Linked DNA regions of Homo sapiens: region 1 is linked to region 2. The links come from fine-mapping of genetic effects on gene expression. Tissue or cell type: NK cells. Region 2 holds a variant in brackets; the other region holds the start of a gene. All regions are shown on one strand. Distances are between the middles of the regions.

What was found. PIP is the estimated chance that this variant, and not a neighbour inherited with it, causes the effect.
Region 1: it holds the start of ASB6, and the variant in region 2 is fine-mapped to the expression of ASB6 in NK cells (Gilchrist 2021, PIP 0.90).

Annotation. Positions count from the first base shown.
Region 1 is chr9:129,640,744-129,643,394 of GRCh38, reverse strand. It overlaps ASB6 (ankyrin repeat and SOCS box containing 6), which reads left to right and starts at 1,244. Exons shown (of 6, transcript NM_017873.4): 1 at 1,244-1,508. The coding sequence starts at 1,396. RefSeq lists a silencer at 878-1,477 and an enhancer at 2,184-2,651.
Region 2 is chr9:129,617,354-129,619,853 of GRCh38, reverse strand. C9orf50 (chromosome 9 open reading frame 50) reads left to right here. Exons shown (of 7, transcript NM_199350.4): 2 at 24-114; 3 at 218-334. It also overlaps a transcript of NTMT1 not described here. Among named protein-coding and RNA genes, the nearest start is that of C9orf50, 2.5 kb to the left of the region's middle. The variant AC/C (reference allele first, on the strand shown) is at 985.

The DNA.
Region 1 (2,651 bases), 23 kb before region 2:
GCCTCCCAAGTAGCTGGGATTACAGGCGCCTGCCACCACGCCCGGGTAATTTTTGTATTTTTAGTAGAGACAGGGTTTCATCATATTGGCCAGGCCGGTCTGCAGCTTCGAACTTCTGACCTCAGGTGATCCACCTGCCTCGGCCTCTCAAAGTGCTGGGGATTCTACCCATTTTACAGATGAGGAAATCCAAGTTCAGAGACAGGCGGTAGCACACTCCTGTGTTCCCAGCTTCTCGGGAGGCTGAGGCGGGAGGATCACCTGAGCCCAGGGGTTCAAAGCTGCAGTGAGTCATGATCACTACACTACACTCCAGCCTGGGAGACAGAGTGAGACCCTGTCTCTAAAAAATACACAAGATTCGGGCTGGGCACCGTGGCTCATGCCTGTAATCCCAGCACTTTGGGAGGCCGAGGTGGGAGGATCACGAGGTCAGGAGTTCGAGACCAGCCTGGCCAATATGGTGAAACCCTGTCTCTACTAAAAATACAAGAATAAGCTGGGCGTGGTGGCCAGCGCCTGTAATCCCAGCTACTCGGGAGGCTGAGGCAGGAGAATCGCTTGAACCCGGGAGGCGGAGGTTGCAGTGAGCCGAGATCGTGCCATTGCACTCCAGCCTGGGCAACAGAGCGAGACTACGTCCCCCAAAAAAACAAAAACAACAACAACAAAAAACAAGATTCACTGAGTCCATCAAGGCAGAGGTGGAGAGGGCTAGCAGCCGTCCTGGCCAGGTGCTCCCCGGGACAGAGAATAAGAAACTGAGGAGGGGACGTGCGAGTACCCTGGTCCTCATCATTCCAGTCAGCGGGCCGGGTGGTGACAGAGGTGGCCCAGCCCCTCTTCAGGGAAGGCGAGGGCCAGCCCGAACCGGAAGGGGCAGTGTCTGATGACCACAGCTCTCAGGGGCGCCCAGGGCCAGTGGGGCAGCGGCAGGGCCGAGAGCACGACCGGCGGAACTCGGACGGCGCCCAGCGGTCGCGGGCGGGATCGCAGGGCGAAGCCGAGCCGGGCCGGGCCCTGGCAGGAAGGGGCGGACCCGCCTGAGTCTCGGATCTGGCTTGGCTCGATCCTCCACTCTCCCACTCCGCTGGGGCCGCCCACTGGACATCGCCCGAGTCGGCCTGGCGGTCGTGCCCCAGGACGCGCCGAGGTCCTCCGAGCCCGCAGGGGGCGCTGTCGCCATATGGCCCACCCTGAGTCGGCGCGGGCAGGAAGTACGAGGGTCACTTCCGGCGGGGGCGCGGCTTGGACTGAGGAGCGGACCCGGCCGGGCGCAGGGGCTGGACTGGCGGAGCAGGTGGGGTCCGCGGCCGCCGGAGCGTTCCGGTCGGCGTCTGGGCATCTCGGCCTCGGCAGAAAGCGCGACGGCCCTGCTGCGCGGGGCCCGCGGCGATGCCGTTCCTGCACGGCTTCCGGAGGATCATCTTCGAGTACCAGCCGCTGGTGGATGCGATTCTGGGCTCCCTGGGGATCCAGGACCCCGAGCGGCAGGAGTCTCTGGACCGGTAACTCACCCCCTCCCGTGAGCTGGCCGAGGCCGCTCCGACCCCGCAGCGTCCCACTTTATCACCACAAGCCGGGCGGGGTGGATGCGTCCCCCTTGACAGAGGAAGGGACGGGCGGAAGCCGGGGTTGCGTGGCTCGGAGTGCGCGCTGCCCCGCGCGGATCCCACTCCTGCCCCTTGCATGGCGGAGACGAAGGGCGGGGAGGGCCCGAGGGCGGAGGCCCGCGGGTTGTCGCAGGGCCTGCGCCTCAGCCCCACCCTGTCGCCTGCCTGTCCTGTGCCACCCCCCGGCGTGGCAGAGGAGCAGGGTGGAATCCGTGAGGCCTCAGATGTTACCCCAGAGCAGTGTGAAGGTGGGCTTTTGTAGCAGAGTTTGCGTTTTTATAGACAAGAGCTGGTCTGTCGTGGACCTGCAGGAAAGGGGTCGGGAGCGAATCTGCATTCACTGCCCATGGTACTAGGCACCTGGGGTCCATCAGTGGCTCAGCAAAACCCCCGCCTTCTTGGCGCATGTGCTCCAGAGGAGAGACTGACAAGTAATTGTACGGCGGCACGCGAGGTGGAAGGGAGGGGAGAGCAGAAGGAAGGGGCTCGGCTCAGGTGTTGAGGGGGTTGTCAGTTGGTATTTCCAACACGTGGTAATGATGAGTCTCGCCATCCAGGGACTCTGGTGGAAACGTAGGCTTTCTTCATCAATATCAGCTGAAGGTCTCAATGTGAGGGGAGGGAGGAGGCTGTGTTGCTGTCCTGGCTGCAGGTGTTGCCGGGGCTGGGGTCCTGCGGGTTTGAGGATGGAAGGGCTTTCTGAGGAAGAAGCATCAAAGTCGGGCTTGGGCTCTTGGCCTCCAGGCTGGTGGTCCCTTCAGTCCCAGCAGCCCAGGTGTGTGAGGCTTTGTACCTAAGTCTGCGACCGGACTCTGGGCAACGCGGGAGGAGAGCGCAGACAGACCCAGCCCATTCTCCGCAAATCCCAGTCTGCTCCCGTATTAAGAGATGCAGCGTGGCCCTCTCTCTACTTCAGAGCTTCCCCCAAGCCCCTGTGACCCACAGAGCCAGGGCCCTGCTTGCTGATGATGATAGCAGGACTAAAGCCCACCAACCCACAGGCTGCGCGGTCACCCGGTCCCACAGCTGTGCCTACCC
Region 2 (2,500 bases):
CAACTGTTTCCTCCTGGCTCCAGCATCCCCAGCACCGCAACATCAAAGGGGTGTATTAGAGCACTGCCCAGGGTCTCCGCGGTGTCCCAACTGTTCATTCCTCCCAGACCTGTGGTAAGCGTCAGTCCGCTTCTTGGTGGGGACGGGGTTGCCATCGATGTTTCCAGGGCGGGACAGCCTGGCCACTCATGCCAGATGTGGCCTGTTTGTCTTTAAGGGGCCAGTCATCGCACCTCCAGGATAGTCTTACGAAGATTTCGCTCCAGCAGACACCTATTCTGGGGCCCCTGAAGGGTGATCACTCACAATTCACCACTGTCAGAAAGGCCAACCAGTGAGTGATGGGCGGGATAAGGGTAGGGTAGTGGAGGAAAGGGGCATTTCTTTCCTTCTTTCTTTCCTCTTTCGCCCATGAATGTATTCATTTATCCACCTATCTACCCATTCATCCATCCTTACATATGGCTGTCCGTGAATCAGATCTTCTACCAACCCATTCAAGATTCATTCGCCAGTTCATCAATGAATCAACCCATCCATTAATGAGGTCTTCTACCAACACATAATTCATCCATGAATCTATTCATATATTCATTTTCCCATTCACCCATCCATCTTTGCATCCATCTCATCCATGAACCAAGTCTTCTACAACCCGTTCATGAATCTCTCCATCTATCCATCCATCCTTCTGTCCACCCATTAATCTATCATGGACCCATGACTCCATCCATCCATACATTCACTCACCCACCCACCCATGAATCAGGTGTCCTGTGGATCCATTCATCTACCTGGCCAACCAGCTAGCCAGTCATCCATCTAAAACTCCCACACTTCGGCAGGGCACGGTGGCTCACACCTGTAATCCCAGCACTTTGGGAGGCTGAGGTGGGCGGATCACGAGGTTAGGAGATTGAGACCACCCTGGATAACACGGTGAAACCCCGTCTCTACTAAAAATATACAAAAAAAAAAAAAAAA[AC/C]ACAAAAAATTAGCCGGGCGTGGTGGCGGGCGCCTGTAGTCCCAGCTACTCGGGAGGCTGAGGCGAGAGAATGGTGTGAACCCGGGAGGCGGAGCTTGCAGTGAGCTGAGATTGTGCCATTGCACTCCAGCCTGGGTGACAGAGTGAGACTCCATCTCAAATAAAAATGAAATAAAATAAAATAAAATAAATAAAAAATAAAACTCCCACACTTCTATCCATCCATCCATTGATCCAATGACCAACCATCTACAAATCCTTCCATCCACTTGTAAACCCAGGACACTGTCCATCGCTAATCTAGTCATAAAGCCATCCACAAACCTACATACCCATCTACATAATCATCCAGCCACGCATCTGTCCATCTACCCATACATTCATAGTTCAGTTCTATTCAGACCCTTTCATTAACTCACCCATCAGTCCATCCACCCATCAACCCACCCACCCAGTCTTCCATCATTTTACCCATCCCACCATCATTTGTCCATTTCTTACTCTAACTTTTATTAGGTTTTACTATATGTTGAATATTGGGAGAAAACTAAGGGATGGAGGTAAGAGAAGAGCCTAGGAATTGGAACCTACCTGGGCCTAGACACCATAGTTTTAACAGAGGAGGAAAAGAAGACAGAAACAGTTCCTCCAGGTTAAAATTCCTCCAGGCTTAAGCAGGGGTGAAGGGTGAATGGCACTGCCCATGAGTTTAAAGACCAGGGAGAGTAAATACATCACAAACATATCATTCTTCCTCATCTCATACCCACAGCAGACAAAACTAATGGATCATATTTCCCCACTGAGCCTCAGAACCATTCCTCACACAGTACTCTAGGTAGATACTCCTGATGGATCAGGGTAGGAACTAGAAATGGAACACATGGCCAAGCATGGTGGCTCATGCCTATAATCCCAGTGCTTTGGGAGGCTGAGGCAGGAGGATCGCTTGAGCCCAGGAGTTTGAGACCAGCCTTGGTAACATGGTGAAACCCTGTCTCTACAAAAATTACAAAAATTAGCTGGGCGTGGTGGTGCATGCCTGTGGTTCCAGCTACTCGGGAGGCTGAGGTGGGAGGATTGCTTGAGCCTGGGAGGTTGAGGCTGCAGTGAGCCAAGATCGTGCCACTGCACTCCAGCCTGGGTGACAGAGCAAGACCCTGTCTCAAAAAACAAACAAACAAACAAAAACAGTGAAACACATTTACCAACCTCAGAACGTTCAACCAATCAGGCCAAATATACACATGACTTCTCACAAGATACAAATAAATAAAAGTATGGAATTCATTCTCTCAAATGTGAGCAAAAGCAGAGACAAACACAGTTACAGACTTTCACATTCAAGAGCAAATACTTGAGCACCTTACTGTGTGTGAGATTCCCTGGTAGGCCCTGCAGGGGACACTGTGGTGCCTCAGAACAGGCTCCAGTGGCCCTCGAGTGAAGATGCTGAGATTTCAGGCAGGTGGGCAGAGCTGGGTTATGCCTTTGCCTGGCCCAGCAGCCAGCAGA